Homo sapiens: one gene and its partners. The protein of the gene in region 5 purifies or fractionates together with the protein of the main gene of each other region. This does not show direct contact. Each region holds a gene or a part of one and is shown on either strand. Other genes may lie near its edges. The genes, in order: NCAPD2, CSE1L, ANP32A, RANBP2, ZDHHC5, HSD17B4 and RBM25.

Region 1 (3,500 bases), on a different chromosome or scaffold from region 5:
CATTACTACATGAAAACATCTACCATCACCTGGTGGCAGCATATCTGTGTGCAGTTAATTTAAAAGACACATTATGTAAGTTTCTCAAAGGTTAACTCTAAACATAAACAGATCACGAAGAATATCCCATTCTTTTGCCTACTTGTAACTAGCTTTGGCAAGCAGTTGATAGATGCGTCCTTTCACATCTTCAGTTGTCTCTGTATTGGCAATTTGCTCAGGAATCTCCTCCTCTCCCTGGGGAAGCTGTAGAAGCTGCTGCAGGGTAGACTTCAACTCTGGCAGCATGGCTTCCCACTCCTCCTCTGGGTCCAGCACTGCAGCTAAATGAGAGTGTCACTTAGTCTCTTTCACTAGAGTTTCTGACTGCAAGGAGAAGCCTGTCTGGCATTAGGACTCCAAGGCAGTAACTACTTACAAGCTGCTGCAGTTCGCCTCTGGGCCCTCATCTCTTGTAATTTCTGGGTCTCCTTCTGCAGTGGTCCGGCAAGGTCAGCATCACTAAGCTATCAGGTAAAATGAATAGCAGGGTCAGTAAATGACATAATTTCATCCCTGTTTCCATTTAATTCCTTCTCTTTTGGTGGACCAAGTCTACTTACCTTGCAGGAGAAAGGATTATTGGCTAGAAAACTGGCCAGCAGCTGGATGGCATTTTTACATACTAGCACTGACTTGTCTGCCAGACGTCCCACAGCTAAAGCCACCACTGCCTGGAAACGTGTCAGGGGGAGAGCCTGTGTAGGGTAGGAAGAGAAGAATCTGCTCAAGTCCCACATCATCCATTTTGTTCAAGATGATCTTTAAGTATACTCTAAACTGAGCTACCCACTCACTCTAAAAACCCTTTCTACAGAATATAGATTAGGAGTACTCCTTGTAGTGGTAAGACACATTACAGTCCTTAAAGGGAGCCAGATATCCTCGTCCTTGGTAGAGGAAGACTTTTACTACTGATAATAAAAATGTGAATTCTAGACCTCTTTGGGGCAGATATTTATCTTCAACACTGGATTCCTCTTTACACTGGTATATGGAGAGGTACCATATGTTTTTGCCACATAGAAGTTGGTTACCTTCTGCTGGACAATTCGGGTGAAGAGCTGCAAAACACGGCTCCGCACAAAGGAGTTGACATCATGGCCATGGGCTTGTAAAGTATCCAAGAACTGGTCTCTGGTGTCTCGGGCTGCTGCTTCCAGTTGATCGCCACTGAGAACCTGCAGCACCATCTCCGCCATGGCTGCCAGCACAGCATTACGCATCATGTAATTCTAAGAGAGAGAAGCATAGAGGGGTCAAACCTTTAGTCAAGGCGAAGCTTGCTTGTGCTTGGCCATAACTTTTTCCATTAACTGCCTAGGTATTCACTCCCAAGGTCACAGGAGAAAGCTGAATCCCAAAGAGGACTTGTTGCTCAGAGAATGCTAGAACAAGGGCCAAAACCAATTTTTCCTCATAGGGCTCACACAGGAAAGCATGGTAGTAGCTGAATAAAAAAATCACATCCACTCACCAACACACATTTGAAAAGCATTTATTAACTACCCTTCAGCTGAGGTCTCAAAGCCTTTGTTATTGTGGTTGTTTGTTTGTTTTTGAGACGGAGTCTTGCTCTGTTGCCCAGGCTGGAGTGCTGTGGCGCCATCTCGGCTCACTGCAACCTCTGACTCCCGGGTTCAAGTGATTCTCCTGCCTCAGCCTCCCAAGCAGCTGGGATTACAGGTGCCCGCCACCACACCCAGCTAATTTTTGTATTTTTAGTAGAGACAGGATTTCACCATATTGGCCAGGCTGGTCTCAAACTCCTGACCTCGTGATCCACCCTCCTCGGCCTCCCAAAGTGCTGAGATTATAGGCGTGAGCCACCGCGCCCGTCTGTGTGGTTTTTTTTGGTTTTTTTTTTGAGACAGAGTCTCGTTTTGTCACCCAGGTTGGAGTGCAGTGGTGCGATCTCGGCTCACTGTAACCTCCATTTCCCAGGTTCAAGCAACCCTCCCACTTCAGCCTCCCGAGTAGCTAGGATTACAGGTGCGCGCCACCACACCCAGCTAATTTTTTTTTGTATTTTTAGTAGAGATGGGATTTCACCATGTTGGCCAGGCTAGTCTTAAACTCTTGACCTCAAGTGATCCACTCACCTCAGCCTCCCAAAGTGCTGGGATTACAGGCGTGAGCCACCACACCTGGCCTCAAAGTCTTTAATCCTTACTAATAAATATCCCCTCCTTTCCCTCCCACTCTCCTTCAGATGCTTTACTGACAGAAAATGAGACAGAAACATGGAAATCAGCCTTAAGAGTGCCAGCAAGTCCAATACATAATCTAGTGGAGAGCAGGGTTAAGGTTTTGCCAGGCTAAGAACCAGAGAATAGGGTCTTGCACAAAAAGTTAAAGTAAATGAGATGAACAAGTGGACTGTCTTTGTCCTTGACATTCACCTAGGAGTGCCCAACATCAGTATGGGAATCAGCCAGGTTAGCATTCAGGCATAAAAGAGAATTGAGAGAGATGACATGGGTTGATTTGAGAAAGTTCATTGTTTGAGGAAGCAAGGCAAGCCAGCTGGTGGGAAGACGCTTTATCCTGAGGAACAGATGGGACTCAGAATCAAAGCTGAAGGCTAAGCATGGTAGCGCCTGCAATCCCAGCACTTTGGGAGGCTGAGGCAGGAGGGTTGCTTGAGACCAGGAGTTTGAGACTAGCCTGGGCAATATGGCAAGACCCCACCTCTACAAAAACTAAAAAAATTAGCCAGGCATGGTAGTATGTGCCTGAAGTCCCAGCTACTTGGGAGGCTGAGGTGGGAGGATTGCTTGAGCCCAGGAGATCGAGGCTGCAATGAGCTATGATCATGCTCCAGCATGGGTGACAGAGCCAGATCCTACCTCCAAGAAAAAAAAAAAATCAAAGCTGAGTTGCTCTTACTAGACTTAAGCTGCAGAAATGTCATCTCCCTTACCAGAACTGGATAAAAGCAATGTGAATTGAAAGATTAACAGATTAATAAAGAGCTCCTTATTCAACAAACTTGACCTGCTTCTCTACAGAAAGGAAATGTCACAATGATAAATCTAGACAACTTGTCAAAGCTACTTTCTTGTTCTGTTAAGAAACAGCCTTTCAACACTGGACTTAAAATCCCCAGAAAAAGCTCAGTGACCCCTAGTGGACCACCTACTTCTCCATCCAGGTGATCTAGCAAAATGCACATGCTGGACATCAGGATAGCTGGGACACGTTCTGCTAGTTCTGTCAGGAATGCTGCAAAGCCCTTTGTCCCTGAAGGGTCTCGACTCAGCTCTTGGGGACACTTTTGTCCAATCTCTCTACACAGGGAAGAAAACACAGCCATAGCAACATAGATCAATTATTCAGTTCCCAGTAAGGGAAGGTAAGACAGGTATCTAATATCTGAAGGAATCTACTGTTGCACAGATAATGTATTTCCAATCTTTCTTTATTCCCTCCCCAAGGAAAATAAGCATGAGAAACTTCGA
Region 2 (3,500 bases), on a different chromosome or scaffold from region 5:
TCAGACCAGCCTGGGCTAACACAGCAAGACCCTGTCTCTACTAAATATACAAAAAATTAGCCAGGTGTGGTGGCACACACCTGTAGATCCAGCAAATTGAGACTGCTGTGAGTTGTGATCAGGCCACTGCACTACAGACTGGGCAATGGGAGTGAGACCCTATCTCCAAAACAACCACCACCACCACCACCACCACCAAATCCCTTACCACAGCAGGGTCTAAGCAATCTGGTATCTACTGACCTCATCTCCTACCTCCTCCTGGCTCTTGCTACATTCCAGGCACAAAAGCCTTCTGTTCTACAAACTGGCCACAAGAGTTCTCCCTGACCATAATAATGCTCATCCTCTAATTTGATAATGGACACCATTCAGCACTCAGCCCACTGTCAACTCTTCAAAAAGGCCTTCTACGATTACCATCTACATCATCCTTGTTTTACTGTGTTAGCAATTACCCTCATTTGAAATAAACTTCTTTGTCGTCTCATACACACACTAGACTGCAAGCTCCTGAGGGCAGGGACTTTCGTCTGTATGCTCAGGACCTTCAGCATTACCTGGCACACAGTACATATTTAGTAAGCATTTGTTGTATGAACTAAAGGATAAGTCACAACATGTCAGTCACCCAGCAAAACATGAGTTTCCAGTCAAGACTGGAGACTATCCCTTCAGATCAATCATTAGCAGCCCCAACATAATGTGGGAACTCAGTTGCATGAATGTCAGATGAACAAATGACCAACTTAACTGCCACAATTAAATTTGTTTATTCAAAAGTACTTCAAGAAAGTGAATTTTTAGATTTGTTCTGGCCTGGCAGAATGGCTCATGCCTGTAATCCCAGCGCTTTGGAAGGCCGAGGCGGAAGGATCACTTGAGGCTAGGATTTCAAGACCAGCGTGGGCAACATAGTGAGACCCTGTCTCTACAATAAATAAAAATTAGCCAGGCATGGTGGCGAGCACTTGTAGTCTCAGCTGCTCTGGAGGCTGAGGCAGAAGGACTGGTTAAGCTCAGAATTTTAAGGCTGCAGTGAGCTATGATCATGCCATTGCATTCCAATCTGGGCAACAGAGTAAGACTCTGTCTCTGAAAAAAGATAAAATTTATCCTGTATTACCTGTTCAAACATGCCAGTGATTTTACTTTTGTTTCAGGGTTCTGTACTTACCATTCCTTCTGCCTGCAGAGCTCTGCACACGGAAAGCTACAAGGTTTGCACTGCCCACTTCATTCTCATTCAGGACTCTTGTTTTTTTTGGAGACAGGGGTCTTTGCTCTGTCACCCAGGCTGGAGTGCAGTGGCGTGATCTCAGCTCACCGCAGTCCCCGCCTCCCAGGTTCAAGCAATTCTCCTGCCTCAACCTCCCAAGTAGCTGGGACTACAGGTGCGTGCCACCACGCCCGGCTGAGTTTTATATACAGTAAAGATGCGGTTTCACCGTGTTGGCCAGGCTAATCTCAAACTCTTGACCTCAGGTGATCTGCCGCCTCAGCCTCCCAAAGTGCTGGGATTACAGGCATGAGCCACCGTGCCCGGCCTGGAAGGACTCTTTTCAAATGTCATCTTTTTTTCAGAGATGCCTTGCTGCACCATCCTATCTAAAAGAGCATTCACCTCAGTTACTCTCCATGCCCTTACTCTACTATTTTCCAAGTACATTTTATCAGGCATATTAATTTCTTTTGTCATTTACTGTGCTTCTCTCTTCACTAGATTGTAAACTCCACTGATAGTAGGGACTTTGTGCTTTGTTCACTGCTCTCTCCCTAGAGCCTTACAATAGTGATGAGCACCCGTTATATATTTGTTGTACTATTTTAAAAAGCTAGATACCTTTGATGTTTCCATCAAAAATATTATTCTTCATCTTTATTTTGGTTGGTTGACTGTGTCAAACAGAAAGAGGTGGACACAACCTTCTAGATTCTAAAACCACAACAGGCTGAGCAAGGTGGCTCACTTCTGTAATCCCAGCACTTTGGGAGGTGGAGATGGGACGATCACTTGACCCCAAGGACCGTTCAAGACCAGACTTGGCAACAATAGTGAGATCCTGTCTCTACAAAAAATTTTAAAAATTAGCTGGGCTCAGGCCGGGCGCGGTGGCTTACGTCTGTAATCCCAGCACTTTGGGAGGCCGAAGCAGGCGGATCATCTGAGGTCAGGAGTTCGAGACCAGCCTGACCAATGTGATGAAACCCCGTCTCTACTAAAAATACAAAAAAAAAAAAATTAGCCGGGCGTGGTGGCATGCGCCTGTAATCCCAGCTACTCAGGAGGCTGAGACAGGAGAATTGCTTGAACCCGGGAGGCAGAGGTTTCAATGAGCCAAGACTGCACCATTGCACTCTAGCTCTAGCCTGGGCAACAAAAGTGAAACTCCCATCTCAAAAAAAAAAAAAAAAAAAAAAAAAAATTAGCTGGGCTTGGTGATACCCTCCTGTGGTCCTAGCTACTAGGGAAGTTGAGGCAGGAGGATTGCTTGAGCCCGGGAGGTCTAGGCTGCAATAAGCTGAGGTCTTGCCACTGCAGTCCAGTATGGGTGACTGAGTGAAACCCTGTCTCCAAAAATAAAATAAAATAAAATAAAATAAAATAAAAATAAATAAATAAAACCACATAATAGAATGAAACCTAAAATGATTAAGTTGAGATGCTAGGGTAGGACTATTTTTAAGTTTAAAAAAAAGTGAGGGGTTATATAAATATGCATGTTATAATCCCTCAAAGTTAAAATACTACATAGATCCCAGAATCTTAATACTCTTTTTTGAGACAGGGTCTGGGTCTGTTACCTAGGCTGGAGAAATGCAGTGGTGTAATTCTGGCCCACTGAAACCTCTGCCTCCTGGGCTCAAGCCATCCTCCTACTTCAACCTCCCAAGTAGCTGGGACTACAGGCACACACCACCACACCTGGCTAATTTTTGTGTTGTTTCTGTAGACATGGTTCCAGTGTTGCCCAGGCTGGTCTGGAACTCCTGAGCTCAAGTGATCCGCCCACCTTGGCCTTCCAAAGTTTATTCTTTGGGAATATTCTTTAAGGAACTATTTGTCAACAAATCCTTTTTATATCGCCTTGCAGATATAGTCTATAAAACCGAATTCTAAGCTTATCCTTAATTTGAGAAAATAAGAGAAATCAGGGACTTTTAGAGAACATTTTACAGGTATTCATAATTATCAACAAGATCAAGCTCTAATTATCTTATGCAACCACAAGTAAAGGTACTTTGACACTCTGAAATATTAGCAATATATAAATGCAAAAAGTGTTACTGATCTAAAAATGACTCAAACTAGAAACAAAACATTCATTTTGGCCAAGTAGGGTGGCTCATGCCTGTAATCCCAGCTCTTTGGGGGGCCAAGGTAAGCAGATTGGTTGAGTCCAGGAGTTTGAGACCAACCTGGGCAACATGGTGCCATCTCTACAAAAAAAAAATAAAAATTAGTTGAGTGTGGTGGTGCACGCCTGTAGTCCTAGCTA
Region 3 (3,500 bases), on a different chromosome or scaffold from region 5:
CAAAAATTATAAAATAAATAAATAAAAAAGGAAACAAGTCTCATACTGCTATGGGGAAAGAAAAAAAAAAAGAAAGATGGCCAACTGTGTAAGTCTAGAGTAAGCCACCTTGAGAGGCTGGTGGTGCAGCAGCAGCAGGAAAGAGGGAATTGGGGCTGTGGTGTGCTGTCATAACACAGGCTGCTGTTATGGGGACTAGGATTTGTCCCCTTGAATTTATCTCCTCCTCCCCTTGACCTGGCCAATTTTATAACCATTCCTTCCGTTCATTAGCTCAGGCACAAGACGCTAGAGGGAAAAACTTCTGAAACTCAAAGCCACTATGCTGCTGGTTCATTCCCCAGGAAACACGCATGGTAGAAAAGCAGCAGGCCAAAAACTAGAGATTCCAGGATTATCTGTCATTTTCAAAGATCTGGGCTCTGAAAGGCTGATGTGAGCCACTGGGTGCACAGCTGCCCCGCCTTTGGTTCAAGCCTCAAAGCTCTAACCGTTGCAACCCAAAGCTCTTTCTATCTCTGAGATGACATCTAGAACCTAAGAGTGACCATTCAACTACAAGATACACAGAAGGCTTTGACATGTTCTGAGTACACAACGAAGAATTTCAGCTGGCTATACAGAACTCTAGACGAGAAGTGCTTCATACTAAACCAGTAACAAGGATAATTTCTCTTCCTATGGAGGTTCCTGGGTTGAGGCTGATTTCCACTAGGCACCAATTACTTACAGGGCACAGAACACATAAAAGGACTTAAAAAGACCCTGAGAGTACCACCCAAATATATGGCTTGCCATTTGCTTAAACAAAGCAAAACACTAGATCCCTGGGGCCCACCCTCCAATCTACTGAACCACCTTTTCAGCAAACCTCTTCTGCAAAGGGGGCAGATAGTAAACTTTATCAAGAGCCAAAATTAAGAACACTACATAGGGACTTTTATAACAAGAGAAAAATCTAACACATTTCCACAATTCTTTTATTGATAAAGTTCAGAATATATTGAGTACAATTTTTTTTTTGTAACGAGATCTGTTAACGAGACAAGTGGATTTCTTATTTTTTGGGAGAATAACATTTCAAGTCATTGGGATTCAAAGAGTGTTCCATACCATCAAATTGACTGCAACGTTTATATGTACAAATAATTCTTAGCTCATGACTGTACAAAAATTGGGAGCTCAGTTATAGTTTGGTGATTGCTGTGGTACTCCTGTGATTGGGGTGGAGCCCAGGAATCTGCATTTTACATGCCTCTCACGTGATTCTGGTAATGGGCCATGGACCCAATGGACTATCCAATCCTCGGAATCTCTGTCCACCAAAGGGGCCTGTGGTTTTGCAGTGCGAGAACCCGGCTGTGCCACCTACCAGTTGCTCAACCTCTCCAAAAATCAGATGATTCATCCTCACAACAGGGGTGGCATTGCACTGCTTGGCCTACCCTTAAAGAGTTGCTGGGATGATTAAGTGAGATGATCCATGAGGTGCTATGAGCATACTATGTCCCAGATACTAAAGACATGCCAGTTATGTTGAGTTTTTTTGGCTGCAGATGCAGACTGCCTGAGCAGCTCCTGCTTGTCTTCTCCTTACTCAAAATGTGTCCCCCAGCACCTTGAAGGCCAGATCCACTTCAACCTAACCCACTGTGATGTGCTAAAGCAAACTCAGTGCAAGGCTTCATAAAATGATAATCCACAGCCCCTGGTCCTGAACCTCCTGGCCCTCTAATATCTCCAACCAGGATGCTATCCACTCTTCATTTCAGCGTCTTCAATAATAGAAAACTCATTCTCTTTCTACGGTGGCACCACTCCAAAGCTGGAGAAGAAAAAGCTCTTCCTTACAGTATCTTAAGAAAAAAAGGGTGTTTCAAAGGAGGCAGTAGAGTGTAGAGGTTGAGTATGCAGACTGGCTGAGTTTGAATCCTGGTTCTGCCACTCACTGGTCACATGATAACCCCTGTATGCCTCAATTTCCATATGCACAATGACGATGATAATAATAATACCTACCTCATAGTGCTGTTGTGGGGACTAAATTAGTTGATACATGTAATCCACTTAAGAAATGTGCCAGACACAGCGTGGTTGCTATGTAAGCACTAGCTAATATTGTTATTATCCTAAACCATGGAGGAGCTCAAAGTAATGCCTGGAAGCACCCTGATATGTCTCCGAGACTAAAACTGTCATATAGACAGCATATACTGAGGGCCATATCAAACCAATTTTGTCATCATTTACTGATTAAATAGGATTATTCCGTTTTACAGGTGAAGAAACAAAGCTTCAAAAAGGTAGGTTAAGCTCACCAGCCCAAGGTCACAAGGGCAGGTAAACGTATCCTACCTCCTTGTGGCAGGAGGAATTCAAACCCAGGTCTGTGTAATTCCTAAGCCCATCTTCATCATGGAGCCCCTCAGACTCGAAACTACTATCAGCAGCAGAACTCAACTGACTATGACCACAGGGGAACTCAGGCTCAATTTTCTGCCTGCGAGTTCCTGGTTGGCTTGCATAAACTGTAGTTAATATCATGCTACTTGAACCCAATTAGGCAGTAAGTCAGCCTGGAAAACATCATGCGATGTATTCCAAAGGTCAAAGTAAAAGCTGGCTTCCAAGGCAGCCTCTGCTGGACACTGCCATGAAAGTTAGTTTCTGCACAGATACCAGAGTTCAGCTCGTGAGGTGCTTAACCAGCACCTATATCGGCTTTTTAAAATTCTCAGAGATGCCAGCATCGGAGGACCCGACGCGACGAATTGCCTGGCTCCTAAGTCAACATCCGGAGAAAGGCGGTTTACTTTTTTCAAAAGCAAACCTTCATCCCTCTCTTTCGCTTTAGGATCTCATTACTATTGTAGCTGCCTTCTCCCAGGCAAAAATAAAAGGGGGAAGGAGCAGGTTTAGACCGAGGAGGAGGGTTCCCCTAGCCTGCAGGGCGCTGCAACATCCACCTGAAACACGGAGCTCGACCTACCTTCCCGGAGAGCCCAGCCCGGGAGGGCGTTTCCCCAACGGATCGACAACTCTTCCCTCCCGGGGAACAGGCTGCTGTCCTTGGCTTCAGTCAGGGCCACTAGAGTCGCGTGCGCGACACCCCTCACCCCCGCCAAAAGAACCTCATGTTTAATGTTCCCCTTACTCTATCACTTCCGCCGAAAGAGCAAACACCAGAGCGATCGGTTAGTCCTTAAGGCCACATTTAACTACGTCTGAGCGCCTGCAGGAGGAACGGCGAAACCCCGGAGAGGAGGCGGGGGAGGCAGGGAGCGCGTGGGGGGGGGCATTTGCACAGAGGATCGTCGTCCTCCCGGCGCCGCGGCCGCCGTGACTCTCCAGCACAGCCTCAGGCCGTTGGCGCGGGGCGGAAACCCCCATCGGGGCTCATAGCACAACTGGGGGTCCCCAAAGCCGGCTCCCCCTGCCTCCTCCGCGCGGGAGGCCGTCGGGGTGATGGCGCAAGACTCCGCTCCCCCCGCCCCCCACAG
Region 4 (3,500 bases), on a different chromosome or scaffold from region 5:
TGTTATTCAGGGTGATGATGTAGCAGATGCAACTTCAGAAGTTGAAGTGTCTAGCACATCTGAAACAACACCAAAAGCAGTGGTTTCTCCTCCAAAGTTTGTATTTGGTTCAGAGTCTGTTAAAAGCATTTTTAGTAGTGAAAAATCAAAACCATTTGCATTCGGCAACAGTTCAGCCACTGGGTCTTTGTTTGGATTTAGTTTTAATGCACCTTTGAAAAGTAACAATAGTGAAACTAGTTCAGTAGCCCAGAGTGGATCTGAAAGCAAAGTGGAACCTAAAAAATGTGAACTGTCAAAGAACTCTGATATCGAACAGTCTTCAGATAGCAAAGTCAAAAATCTCTTTGCTTCCTTTCCAACGGAAGAATCTTCAATCAACTACACATTTAAAACACCAGAAAAGGGTAAGTACTTTGTTGTTAAAGTTAAGCACAATTTTTCTTTCTTTTAATGTTTAGCTTGATGCAGACTCTTTGTAGGATACTAATGTTGGGATATAAATGATGCTTTGTGAACACCCCCAAAATATTTGAGCAATTTTTTTTCTCCCTTAATAAGTTCACGGTGAGGTTTCAAAGAGCAAGAGAACTTAGTTTAAGACATTTCAGTAACTGGAAGATACTTTTATCATGCTAGGGCAGAGCAAAAGAACTCGGTACGGTATACGGACTCATGCTTGAATCATGCACATTAACGTGAGTCTTTTTTTAAAGTGTTCATTTTCATTTGTTCAGTTTCTTTTGTCACTCAGAAAACATGATATTGAGGCTGGGCACGGTGGCTCACTCCTAGAATGCCAGCACTTTGGGAGGTTGAGGTGGGCAGATCACTTGAGCTCAAGAGTTCGAGACCAGCCTGGCCAGCATGGTGAAACCCTGTTTCTACTGAAAATACAAAAATGAGCCGGGCGTCGTGGTGCGTGCCTATAATTAGCAGCTACTTAGGAGGCTGAGGCAGGAGGATCACTTGAGCACAGGAGATGGAGGTAGCAGTGAGCTGAAATCATGCCACTGCACTCCAGCCTGACTGAGTGACTGAGACTTTGTCTCCAAAAAAAAAAAAACAACGTGATATTGAGATGTTCTCATTTTATATGTTGTATGTCAGTCTTGCTCATGTATTAAATGAGCAAAGAATGAAACTACAGGGATAAATGAATATGTAAGACAATCAGATTGGTGGTATAAATTGAGGGATTCTGGCTTTTTATGTTTTAAAAGCATATTCATTTTGTTTCCTAAAATGTTAAAAAACGAAATATTCTTTATTTTCTAGGATTTAATTTTAGCCTTTTTAAATCTAATCCCATGGCCTTTTGGACTAGCACCCCTTCCTCACAGCCTGAGAGCAAAGGTATAGAACTAGCATTCTCAGTATGAGATAACAGCAGTTTTTAGCAGCTGGGTAGCCCTTAGCAAAGTATTAATAACTGTGGCTGTATGAAATGAAGTACTTACCACTACAACATGCATGTTAAAGAATGCCAGTTTAAGCAAAGTACCTTTTGACTGGTGGCATGACACCCTTGTTGGTTTGTTTTTTAAAATGTACTGGGATGCTGATTTGTAATGTACTTCATTGCTCTGCTATTTCAGGTCTGCTCAATGAAGACCTATGTTTTATCTAATGTTTATGTTTAGCCACTAACGTCTGCCAGTATTCAAATGTAGTGGCAACGGCATGTATACAATATGGAAGAGTGTCCCTGTAGGGCTGTTCTTTTGTGCATGGTTTAGAAAAATGTTGTATTTGAAAATGGACCCCGTTTTTAACAGCCAGCATTCTACAGCTTGCATATTATATATGTTGCACCGATCAATTTTAGAAGTGTGGCTACTAGAGTGGAACAAGAAGTGGGATCTGTTGAAGGCCTTCAAGAACAGGTTAGGGAAGTGAAATCTCACCCTTAGTGACCAGTAACACATCTTAGCCATGCCAAACAAGTACAATGATAAAGTAGCAATCTCTGATTTTTTTTTTTAAGTATACCAGTTTTATTACTAGCTAAGGTAGCTCTTAATCTTTTATTTTTAAAGATACGGTCTTTGAGAAATGTGAAAAGTGTTAACTTAAAAGTGGATGTATACTTGCGTACAGTTTCTGTGAGCTCTAGGTTAGGAATCCCTGACCTAAGAATGAATGTGCCTATATACTACTGTAGAACATAGAGCCTTATTTTGTTTTGAATCTGATAATGTCATTGTCCCAAGGGACCTTAGAAATGAAGACTTTAGACATGAGTAAACTGAGGCCAAGAGAGGCTATCTGATTTACCCAAGGTGTCTTTACTGAGTAATAGCAGAAGTGGAACAAGAATCTGTATCTTACGGTGTACTGTTATTTCTCCTAGCTAGAAAATGATACTAAGTTTTTGTTTATAATGAAGGAGAGGGACAAATTTAACATTGTAAAAGGAAGGGCACTGGTTCTGCAGAGCAGTGTCATCCAGTAGAAATAAAATATAACCTGTGTATGTAATTTAAAATTGTCATTTGGTGCAATGGCTTGTGCCTATAATCCCAGTTACTTGGGAGGCTGAGGCAGAGGGATCACTTGAGCCCACAAGTTCCAGGCTTTAGTGAACTGTGATCACATCACTGCACTCCAGCTCTGGGTGACAAAGCAAGACTGCATCTCAAATAAATAAATAAATAAATAAATTTTCTAGTAGCCATATTAAAAAGAATAAAAAGAAACAGTTAAAAAGGGAAACAGATGAAAGTAACTTTATTGATAGATTTGATTTAACTTATGTCCAAAATATCATTTTAACTTCTAATTAATATAAAAATTAATGATATTTTACATTATTGTTTTTCACCAAGTCTTCAAAATCCAGTGTGTGTGTTTACACTTACTGTTAGCACGTCTTGATTTGGACTAGCCACCTTGTGAGGTTTTAATAGAATGTGGCTAGGCTACCATATTGGACACCATAGCTCTCAGAATGTTTCCCTATCACTAGTTGGTATACATGGCATGCTTCATGACTGGCTTGCTTTATTAAACTCCTTTAGCCAGAAGTTCAGAACAGGTTGCATATAGAAGTTTTTTCTCTTTCTAATTTTTTGCCCTTTGCATTGATGGTGGCTGGGGATGGGTTGTTTTTAGCCATATGAATGGTCTTAGATTTTATAGTGTTAGCTACCTATAGAGTCACAGTTGTTATTTAATTTTACTTAGTATCATGCTTGAACATAGGCAAACTAGATGCAACTCTAGTCACCTTCCATTCTTGGCAATTGTTAACTTTCCTTACAGAAACTAATCACAGTTGGCTTTGGATTAGTTTCATATGTATAGTAATACTTGCCTATGTTTTAAGATTTTTTTCAATTGCTGCAAATGCATGGATATTTTGGTAAACTATTGTATGCTAAGTATAGTTAGGCAACACTTTAAAATTTTTAACCTTTATAAATTCTAGAAATTTATAGTAATTCTTTTCAATGACTATTAAGTAAACACAAATTTTTTTTTGTTTTCTTTGGTTTTAA
Region 5 (3,500 bases):
GTCTCGCCATGTTGCCCAAGCTGGTCTTGAACCCCTGGCCTCAAGCAATATCACCCCACCTTGGCCACCCTAAATGTTGGGATTATAGACATGAGCCACTGCCTATCATATATTTCTCAACTATACTGGAAGACAAGGCACAAGAATCAGTTTGGGTATAGCATTAGATGAAGAAAAGTTGGGTTTTTTTTTTTGAAATGGAGTCTTGCTCAGTCACCCAGGCTGGAGTGCAGTGGCGTGATCACGGCTCATTGCAACCTCTGGCTCGCAGGTTCAAGCGATTCTCATGCCTCAGCCTCCCAAGCAGCTAGGATTACAGGCATGTGCCACCACACCTGGCTAATTTTTTTTTGAGATGGAGTTTCGGTCTTGTTGCCCAGGCGGAGTGCAATGGCATGATCTCGGCTCACTGCAACCTCCGCCTCCCGGGTTCAAGCAATTCTCCTACCTCAGCCTCCCAAGTAGCTAGGACTACAGGCATGCGCCACCATGCCCAGCTAATTTTGTATTTTTAATAGAGACAGGGTGTCTCCATGTTGGTCAGGCTGGTCTCGAGCTCCCAACCTCAGGTGATCCACCCACCTCAGCCTCCCAAAGTGTTGGGATTACAGGCATAAGCCACTACGCCCAGCCAGAAAATTTTTCTATTTTTTATTTTAGTCTGTTTTAGAGATGGAGTCTCGCTATGTTGTCCAGGCTGGTCTTGAGCTCCTGAACTCAAGCGATCTTCCCACCTCAGCCTCGCTAAGTGCTGGGATTATAGGCATGAGTTACTGTACCTGGCAGAAGAAAGGGTTTAAAAAAGGTTTTAATTCTGTCACTTATTTGCCCATTTAAACCAACAACTACTTGTTTAGCTCCTACCATCTAGCTGTAAGCTGTTAAGTCCTATGAAGACATGGAAATGAATGAATTCATTTTCTATTGTTAATGAACTTAAAGTCTAATGTAGGGCCGGGTGCAGTGGCTCACACCTATAATCCTAGCATTTTGGGAGGCTGAGGGGGTTGGATCACTTCAGGTCAGGAGTTTGAGACCAGCCTAGCCAACATAGGAAAACCCTGCCTCTACTGAAAATAAAAAAATTAGCCAGGCGTGGTGGCGCATGCCTGTAGTCCCAGCTACCCAGGTGGCTGAGGCACGAGAATCGCTTGAACCTGGGAGGCAGAGGTTGCAGTGAGCTGAGATCATACCACTGGAGTCCAGCCTAGGTAACAGAGCAAGACTCCCTCTCAAAAAAAAAAATCTAATGTAGAAAACAAGATTTGTATTTAAGTAATTTTAACCCAAATTAGTAAGTGATAAACACTGTAAGAAATATGGGCCAGGCGTGGTGGCTCATGCTTGTAATCCTAGCACTTTGGGAGGCCGAGGTGGGCAGATCACCTGAGGTCAGAAGTTCGAGACCAGCCTGGCCAACATGGCAAAACCCCATCTCTACTAAAAATACAAAAATTAGCCAGGCAAGGTGACGGACACCTGTAATCCCAGCTACTCGGGAGGCTGAGGCAGGAGAATTGCTTGAACCTGGGAGGCAGAGTTTGCACTGAGCACCACTGCACTCCAGCCTGGGCAACAGAGCAAGACTCTGTCTCAAAAAAAAAAAAAAAAACACAAAGGAAACTAAAGCAAGCTTCCGTCTCTTTGCCTTGGGTGAGACTTCCATGTTATCTAGCTTGACTTCTCTAAATTCCTCACCTTTGTTCTCCTCAGCTCTCCCTGGATGCCATTATCCATGATCTTCACAGTTATCTGCCCATCTGAAACTTCTGGTCGAAGGAAGGGAGGTCTGATTACAATTGTCTTCTCTTTCTTTGGTCTCCCCAAATACCTAAGTGTCGAGAGAGAGAGAGAGAGAGACACAGCGAGAGAGCTTTCATTCATTTATATTTTAAAGTATCTACTGTTTCTGTAAACCATTTTTATTAGGTTGGTAAAAAAGTAATTGCAGTTTTGGCCATCACTTACTTAGCAATAAACAGAATTGATTCTGTGAAGGACTGCAGCAGGACTAGGCCTTTGTGAGCAGATACCTAGCTCAAGGAAAGCACTTTAGAGTGTATCTTATTCACCCTCAATTCTCAAAGATTTACCTTAATACCTGAAGAATATCAATGGAATTCACAGTGTCCACTAAAGCAGGGGTCCCCAACCCCTGGGCCGCAGACCAGTACCGGTTCATGGCCTGTTAGGAACTGGGCCACATAGCAGGAGGTAAGCAGTGGGCCAGTGAGCATTATCACCTGAGCTCCATCTCCTGTCAGATCAGCGGAGGCATTAGATTCTCTTAGGAGCGCAAACCCTAGAACCCTGTTGTAAACTACACATGCAAGCAATCTAGGTTGTATGTGTGCTCTGAGCTCACTGCAACCTCTGCCTCCTGGGTTCAGGCAATTATCCTGCCTCAGCCTCCCAAGTAGCTGGGATTACAGGTGCCTGCCACCTTGCCCAGCTAATTTTTGTATTTTGAGTAGAGAAGGGGTTTCACCATATTGGCCAGGCTGGACTTGAACTTCTGACCTCAAGTGATTCGCCCACCTCGGCCTCCCAAAGTGCTGGGTGTGAGCCGCCACACCCAGCCATGAGAATCTAATGCCTCATGATCTGAGGTGGAACAGTTTCATCCTGAAACCACCCCACCCCAGCCCCCATCTGTGGAAAAAGTGTCTCCCATGAAACCGGTCCCTGCTGCCAAAAAGGTTAGGGACCACTGCACTAAAGGATGGGCATGTAGGTACTTACCATTCTAAGATAGACTACTTACCATTCTAAGATAGAGTGGGTACTTAACATTCTAAGATAGAGAACCCTTCCTAAAGGCTCTCACCAGACCCCTCCTTTACCAGAACAAGCCCAAAGAAGATAAAAGTTCTGACCAATGGTAAACACTAGACCAGAGGGATAGGTGTACCTGGGTGCTGGAGAACTGCAGAGAACACGGCTGACATTGTTACAGCAGCCATTGGTGAAGGGGTTCACACCTCCCCGGAATTTACCCGTAACCTAGAGGGAGAAAAAAAATACCAGGTTAGAAGATGAGACCTTGACTTCCAAAGGCCAAAATACAAATCTATTACAAGTTATTGTGCACTCACTATCTGAGGGCTATGCAAATGAGTAAAACACAAGAAATTTATATATGTTATGGTTAAGAGCAGGGAATCTACAGTCAGGGTCCTTAGTTCAAATCCTAGGTCTACCTCATGGTTGCTGACCCAAAACCTCAGTTTCCTCATGTAAAATGGGATAGCTTTCTAAATATTGAAAACTAAGATAAAGAATAAGCAATTAAGGGCTGGGCATGGCAGCTCACACCTGTAATCCCAGCACTTTGGGAGGCTGAGGCAGGTGGATCACCTGAGGTCCGGAATTTGAGACCAAACTGGCCAACATGGCAAAACCCCATCTCTACTATAAAAATATATAAAAACTAGCCGGGCATGGTGTCAGGCACCTGCAATCCCAGCTACTTGGGTAGCTGAGGCAGGAGAATTGCTTGA
Region 6 (3,500 bases), on a different chromosome or scaffold from region 5:
CAATAAAGTAATTTACTGAAGTGCATTTTGTTCATTAATTATCTCTTTCCATGCTTTTCAATGTATGTAATTTGAAGTAAAGTGAACAAATTACTTGAAAGATCTTTTTTCCTCCAAAATATGATGAGATGTAGTCAAGAGAATGATCTTCTTGATTGTTAAAAATCAAAGTTTTAATAAACGCTATGTTAAACTTTAGAAACTTATCCTATACATTTGTAGCAATAACAATTTTTATGAAAGAATAGCCATTGGAATAATTTGAAATGAAGGACTGGGAATTAGAATTTGAATTCCTTTAATGACTATTTTGATAAAAGCCTATTTAGACATTTAGTTCATGCTGTGTACACTTCCTCTTGAAATAAGACCTGGAATTACTACTTAAAAAACACTATTATGATTTGTTCCTAGCCAATTTTATTCTATATTAGCAGAACAAATGTACTTTGAGTACCATTACCTCATGTGGCTATTGTGCTATGCCTTTTACTATTTATAAGGATTCAGCATGGACTGAATTCTGTTTATAAGAGTGCATCCCCTGATCCCCACTTCCCCCCCAAAAAATGCCCAAAATACCAAGGCCCAGTCTCTATCAGTGTATTTACATTAGAATTTTGGGGGATGGGACCTCATAGGGTTTCTTTGTTTGTTTGTTTTAAAGGGCTCCAGCTGATTATAAAGCCAGGTTTAGTAACAGTTGTATTAAATCAGAAAGCCTTTATGTTTGTTCATCTTGACATTTACTTTAGCAGCCTTTTATTTTATCTGGATTATTATATTCTTTTTCATATGAGGCAAAAATAATAAATTTTAAACTTTGTACTGTTTCACAGTGAAATTACACTTCCATTGTAATCAGAATAAATCTTTTTTTTTTCTTCTCCTCCTAAGGTCCAAGAAACTGGAGACATTGTCATTTCAAATGCATATGTGGATCTTGCACCAACATCTGGTACTTCAGCTAAGACACCCTCTGAGGTAGGTTATAAAAATTAGTATCCAAGCCACTTCCTCATTTAGGAATTTCAGTTAAGGTGACTTTAAGAGTGGTTAGGCTACGTTAGAAAATTAACAACCATGAAACTATTCTTAATTCTTGAAGTGAAAAACATTAATTCAAAACAGCTTGGAATAGAAGGAATACTCTGGCAATTTATGAACTTTAAAAAACTCGTTTTGCAGGATACTAGGATATCTTTCAAGAGAACATAATTTTCTAGTTTTAGAATAAATAAATCAGTTGTTTAATCAGAATCTTAAGCAAACAGCGTTTTGGAGAAAAATAGATTAAAAAGTTGAATATCCTGTACCTTTTTCTTGATTTAAAGGTTTATATAAAGTTTTGTATGCAAATATATAAACCAGCAGCGTGTATAATTTATTAAAACATTGTATTATTTATTAGCATGCTGAGACTTTTGATAAAAATGTTTATATTCTATCTCTGAAATATTAACTTTGTAATGTTGAGGTTTCGATACCCATGATCTTTAATTGTCTGTCATAAACCATATAACTGACTGAAAATTAAAATCCCTTAAGAATAGTCTAAGAAAAAAAAAAACTTAGAGCGGGCTCGGTGCCTCACGCCTGTAATCCCAGCCCTTTGGGAGGCTGAAGTGGTTAGGTCACTTGAGGTCAGGAGTTCAAGACCAGCCTGGCCAACATGGTGAGACTCCATCTCTACTAAAAATACAAAAATTAGCCAGCCTTGGTGGCAGGCTCCTGTAATCCCAGCTACTCAAGAAGCTGAAGCAGGAGAATCACGGGAACCCGGGAGGTGGAGGTTGCAGTGAGCCAAGATTGCACTACTGCATTCTAGCCTGGGCGACAAGTCTGTCTCAAAAAAAAAAAAAAAAAACAAAAAACAAAAAAAACCCAAAACTTAAGTTTTAGAGCTGTAAAGAAATTCAGACTTCATGTAATTTAGTATTATTTTATAAATAAAAAAAATGAGACCATAGAAGTTGATTAATTTGATCAGGATCTTTCTAAAGTTAGCTAAAACATAGGTTGTCCAGTTCCTATTTTTCTTTTAAAATATTATTTCTGAATTCTAATAAAAGTAAAATCCTGTTATTAAGAGGACTGAGGTTCTGAGTGATGTATACAAATAAGAAAGTATGAAAGACACATTGTATGAAGAAAACTGACTTATGTACAGAGTTTTAAAAAATCTTTTTTTTGCACATGTTTTATAATCACTTTTCTCCATGAGTTATTTTTACAGAACTTTTAAAGTTTATTTTGTTGTCGTTGTTAGGGCGGGAAGCTTCAGAGTACCTTTGTATTTGAGGAAATAGGACGCCGCCTAAAGGATATTGGGCCTGAGGTGGTGAAGAAAGTAAATGCTGTATTTGAGTGGCATATAACCAAAGGCGGAAATATTGGGGCTAAGTGGAGTAAGTTATAGCCCTGATTTTATAATATTCTAAGGTAATTCTTAGTAAATAAAGTATCTTTTTAACAATTAAAGACCTTTGAAGGTAGGTAAATCTTACCTTTTTAGGTAAGTTTTTTTTCTTTTCCCGTGGGAATGAATAGGTTTGGGAATGTCCAAAGGGGGGTGTGTGTGTGTGTGTGTGTGTGTGTGTTTGTGTGTGTGTGTAAGAGATGTAGGGAATCAATTGAAATGAAAATAACCTGTTTTAAGATTTCATTGTAATCCTTGAAAGTAGTTTAAACAGTCATCTTGGCTATATGCATCTTTATCTAATCTTCAGCTTCTTAAACATAAGGCAAATTCATCAAGTCAAAATGAAGTATTTTTAAGTCATGATATTTGACAGTTACAAAATTATTTTATTCATACCAAAACAATAATTTGGATTATCTTAATTATCAATATAAAATCACTATTTTCTAGATATATACAGATTATGGTCAAAGGTGTTTGTTTATCTAATCTAGGGAAATTATCTATTAGAGTGCCATGCACCCAATATAAAACATCTTGCCGCAGAAAGAAAGCAGTCATATTTCTTTTCACTGATGTGGAGGTCCAAAGAGACCCTGGTACCATTTTGTGAAGAAAGAGAAATTAGAGGATAAAAAGAATAAAGAAAAAATATTCTGTCAGATCTTTTGCATCTGCTGTGTAACTCACATCCTTAATCATGGCACACACTTTAATTATGGAATATTCTAACCTCACCTTTATTTTCCTAGAGATTCTTCAATTAGGTTGAAAAGATGAAAATGGATAGGAGGTAGAGCAGTAAGTCCCTGAATTCCCTTTCAGCAGAGTCTGTTGCTTGTCACAGTTATCTTACTGTATTATGGTCATTTATAATTGTATGTTTTCTCTCATTTGACTTTGGGCTTAATCCTGAGAAATGGCTGCAGTTTGTCTATTTCTAGCTTCTAGTATAGTCAATAACACATAATAACTAGCCTGATTCTGTATATGTTGGAATGAGTGCTAAAAGCCATGTAGAAAGCATAGTTTTAGAAAATAGTATGGCTGCCTTTTAAAAAAAAGGTTCTGAAATTGA
Region 7 (3,433 bases), on a different chromosome or scaffold from region 5:
GCAGACCCTATCTCAAACAAACAAACAGAAAGATTTCACGTGAATGCATGTAAAACTACTTGTCATTAGTGGTTATTTAATAGTGCAATGCTAGACCATGAATTAGAACCCCATATATACTCCTCTAGATAAACCACCTGCAGGGACTACTGACATAATTACAATGGGCAAAACAGACTAGGTGACCTCTAAAGCCCCTTCCACATATTACTACTTCTACTGAGAATCTTCCTATTTCCCATTTCCTCTCAGCTTATCACATTTGATAATTCACATAGTATTTTGTATTTATGTCTAATGATGTTCCTGAACTCGTGTAATTTTTTTTGCCACCATTAGATGATCAGCTAACAGAAATACATGTATTTTTTTGAGATGGAGTTTTGCTCTTGTTGCTCACGCTGGAGTGCAGTGGCGCAATCTCGGCTCTCTGCAACCTCCACCTCCTGGGTTCAAGATGCTGTCTCAAAAAAAAAAAAAAAAGTAGACAGACTCAGGAGTGTCATTTAATTCAAACAACATGGCTTGAAAAGAATTTTTATTTTTGTTTCTAGAAATTATCTTCTTTACCTGGGTATTTTAGACTGCCATTCTTTAATTTCGCCTTCATGACTCAAGTAATGAAATGCAAAGATTCTGTCAATTAAAAATGTAAGCATTCAAATGCAAATAAATTAACATAAATATTTCAGTATTTTACCATAATCACATTACAAAAAATCTATCAGTTTATCAAAAAGTGTAAGTTCACTTCGCTCTATAGTATGATTGTTATATTAGTAGCTCCTGGGTTTGGTATGTATCTCCCTGTTTTCTTCTTGACAGCTAGACTGTTTCTTTGCCTGCTTGGGATTCCTTCTCATACCCTTTTATCTCCAGTGACATTCACAAATCAATCCCTCATCATCTTTTGTTGAGCAAAACTATTTCTCAATTTCATACTTAACAGAAGACTGAAATACAACCCAGAGAAGTTTGTAATCAATTTGACATAAAACCTCTCAGCAGTCTTTTGGGTATAAATTGGGGATATCATAAAACCTGTTAAAAAGAGTTGGGAAAATAAGCCTCATCTAAACATTGTATACCTGCTTACACTTATTTGCATTAAATTTATTCCATTAAAAAGGAGAAAAAAAGATAGTGTCTAGTTCAAATTGGCTCTCAAGCTAAATGTTTTCTCAGTTTTTCTACTATATCTAGTATTCATGGCAGATTAATACCTGAAACAGCACGCTTCACAAAATAATCATTAGCTTACACTTACATAGTTTACAGGGAAATGCCATAATAAGATTCAGAATAAGTTACAACATAAAGTTATCTACAGAAAAAATTTTCAGGGCTGGATGGAAAAAAAGCCTAGAATATTAGGGCTTTCTCAGACATAATTTTGCAAGATTACATTACGTTCATGAGTTACGTGTATTTGCCTCAAAAAATGTTTTTCTCTTTAAAATCTACTTAAAGGAAAATTCAGCTGCATTTATGTAGTCTGTTAGGATAAAATAATACTGAATAGACACCTTAAAGTGCTAATCAAAATGTAGTCTTGGATCAGTTGGCAATGACATTAGCTGGGAGCTGTCCAGAAATGCAAAGCCTGCGGCGCCACCCCAGCGCTGCTACTTCAGTGTCTCTATTTCTACAAGCACTCCTCAGATGATTTGGGGTCACATTAAAGTTTAAGAAAAACAACTTCAAACTTACCTTTCTTCCTTGTGAACAGATGTACATACTTTATTTTTAGGGACAAATAAAGAAAAGTAGTATTCTACTACTTTTTTGCCAGATCAAGACTGGTTCTTAAGATGTTCACGCTTTGGCCAGGCAAGGTGGCTCACGCCTGTAATACCAGCACTTTGGGAGGCTGAGGCGGGTGGATCACCTGAGGTCAGGAGTTTGAGACCAGCCTGGCCAACAAGGTGAAATCCTGTCTCTACTAAAAATACAAAAAATTAGCCAGGTGTCGTGGTGGGCACCTGTAATCCCAGCTACTCAGAAAACTGAAGCAGAATATCTCCAGAACCCGGGAGGCGGAAGTTGAAGTGAGCTGAGCTCGCGCCATTGCACTCCATCCTGGGCGACAAAAGCACAACTTCCTCTCAAAAAAAAAAAAACCCCAAAAAAACAACAAAAAAAGACTTTCATGCTCTTTATATAACAACTTGAAATGGCAAAATGAATTCATACTGTATAAGGTTTTCAAACTAAAATTAATTTATGAGATTATGGTAAAATTAACCCACAAAGTTCAAGCAACTTAATAGAAATTTCTTATGTGTATTTTCAGACACTAGAATATGCCTGTTTAATGTCTAATTCTTTATATATACAATTCTAAAAATCAACCAACTCTGACAATCTAAAGCCTTTTACTGAAGCTTGGTTACAAAACATGATTTAAACTGGCATTAAGCGATTAACAGTTTCTACCACATTTACTGTAACAATTTTCACTCTGCTGCAGAAACTTTAATATATGAACTTGCACAAATTCATATATTTAGTTGAGGTCCTGTCACAAACCTCACTGGAGATGTTATGCAGTACAGAGTACATCTCCCCAAAGGTTTCAGATTACGACATCTCCCTTGTTTTTAGAGTGGCCCTTTAAGATAAGTACAGTTGACAGAGCAGGAGAAGAAACGAAGCAAAGGAAATCAAATCTACCTGAATAAACCTTCATGTTAATAGTGGCTAAATAAAAACAACACAATATGATGCTTAAGAACAGTGCAGTATGTTAAGAAAAGACAGACACAATAAACTCCTCGAACAAGGTCTTAGGCTGGGGGTGTGTCTAAGAAAAGACTGAAAAATTAACGAAAATGGCAAGGGGCATCTTTTCTGAAATTTTCCGTTGAGAAACCAGAATTTAAAATAAAAGAGACATTTCCATAGATGTATAGTAGATTCATCCAAAATAATGTAAATGGCTTCCTTGACCTTTAGATACCAATAGTCATAAAAATCAAGTCCATAAAAAGTTCAGCCCATATTTTTAACTTTTCTAGTATGCACCACACAATTACAACATGATGCCATTTATTTACATGATTCTGAAAGAATATGAGTCCCCAGGATCAAATATATACATTTTTAATATTTGAAATATTTACATAATGGAACCACATCAGGGTTCGAGGGTAAGAACAGTGTTTTCAAATGTCCTCTCCAGGTGTGTTTAAAAAAAAAAAAAATCCAGTAATCCAAAGCTCACATTATGCTTTTTCTAACAGGCCAATCTTTACCTTTCTTTTAAATAAGTACTCAGACATGGGAACAGTTGCATCTAATTTGTGTGAAAAGCTGTTTAAAACTTCTTACGTTTTCAGGTAATTTTACTCCCTGGTGAAATTCTGATCTACAACGAAGAAAGCCCCAGGAATTTCTCTAAGCACATCATCAGTACATTTTTAAACACTAATGA

The links.
Region 1: the proteins of ZDHHC5 (region 5) and NCAPD2 purify together in Homo sapiens (co-immunoprecipitation; one large-scale study listed by IntAct). This does not show direct contact.
Region 2: the proteins of ZDHHC5 (region 5) and CSE1L purify together in Homo sapiens (co-immunoprecipitation; one large-scale study listed by IntAct). This does not show direct contact.
Region 3: the proteins of ZDHHC5 (region 5) and ANP32A purify together in Homo sapiens (co-immunoprecipitation; one large-scale study listed by IntAct). This does not show direct contact.
Region 4: the proteins of ZDHHC5 (region 5) and RANBP2 purify together in Homo sapiens (co-immunoprecipitation; one large-scale study listed by IntAct). This does not show direct contact.
Region 6: the proteins of ZDHHC5 (region 5) and HSD17B4 purify together in Homo sapiens (co-immunoprecipitation; one large-scale study listed by IntAct). This does not show direct contact.
Region 7: the proteins of ZDHHC5 (region 5) and RBM25 purify together in Homo sapiens (co-immunoprecipitation; one large-scale study listed by IntAct). This does not show direct contact.

Annotation. Positions count from the first base shown.
Region 1 is NC_000012.12:6,514,602-6,518,101, reverse strand, and holds part of NCAPD2 (condensin complex subunit 1), read right to left. Parts: intron 3,330-3,500; coding exon 3,182-3,329; intron 1,275-3,181; coding exon 1,077-1,274; intron 738-1,076; coding exon 603-737; intron 507-602; coding exon 419-506; intron 324-418; coding exon 143-323; intron 1-142. UniProt on the Homo sapiens protein: Regulatory subunit of the condensin complex, a complex required for conversion of interphase chromatin into mitotic-like condense chromosomes.
Region 2 is NC_000020.11:49,049,312-49,052,811, reverse strand, and holds part of CSE1L (exportin-2), read right to left. Parts: intron 1-3,500. UniProt on the Homo sapiens protein: Export receptor for importin-alpha. Mediates importin-alpha re-export from the nucleus to the cytoplasm after import substrates (cargos) have been released into the nucleoplasm.
Region 3 is NC_000015.10:68,814,396-68,817,895, forward strand, and holds part of ANP32A (acidic leucine-rich nuclear phosphoprotein 32 family member A), read right to left. Parts: intron 1-3,500. UniProt on the Homo sapiens protein: Multifunctional protein that is involved in the regulation of many processes including tumor suppression, apoptosis, cell cycle progression or transcription. Promotes apoptosis by favouring the activation of caspase-9/CASP9 and allowing apoptosome formation.
Region 4 is NC_000002.12:108,767,982-108,771,481, forward strand, and holds part of RANBP2 (E3 SUMO-protein ligase RanBP2), read left to right. Parts: coding exon 1-407; intron 408-1,278; coding exon of another isoform or gene 1,279-1,356; intron 1,357-3,500. UniProt on the Homo sapiens protein: E3 SUMO-protein ligase which facilitates SUMO1 and SUMO2 conjugation by UBE2I. Involved in transport factor (Ran-GTP, karyopherin)-mediated protein import via the F-G repeat-containing domain which acts as a docking site for substrates.
Region 5 is NC_000011.10:57,692,114-57,695,613, reverse strand, and holds part of ZDHHC5 (palmitoyltransferase ZDHHC5), read right to left. Parts: intron 3,004-3,500; coding exon 2,912-3,003; intron 1,832-2,911; coding exon 1,699-1,831; intron 1-1,698. UniProt on the Homo sapiens protein: Palmitoyltransferase that catalyzes the addition of palmitate onto various protein substrates such as CTNND2, CD36, GSDMD, NLRP3, NOD1, NOD2, STAT3 and S1PR1 thus plays a role in various biological processes including cell adhesion, inflammation, fatty acid uptake, bacterial sensing or cardiac functions.
Region 6 is NC_000005.10:119,528,997-119,532,496, forward strand, and holds part of HSD17B4 (peroxisomal multifunctional enzyme type 2), read left to right. Parts: intron 1-897; coding exon 898-984; intron 985-2,269; coding exon 2,270-2,408; intron 2,409-3,500. UniProt on the Homo sapiens protein: Bifunctional enzyme acting on the peroxisomal fatty acid beta-oxidation pathway.
Region 7 is NC_000014.9:73,120,967-73,124,399, reverse strand, and holds the end of RBM25 (RNA-binding protein 25), read right to left. Parts: 3' UTR 501-3,433; downstream 1-500. UniProt on the Homo sapiens protein: RNA-binding protein that acts as a regulator of alternative pre-mRNA splicing. Involved in apoptotic cell death through the regulation of the apoptotic factor BCL2L1 isoform expression.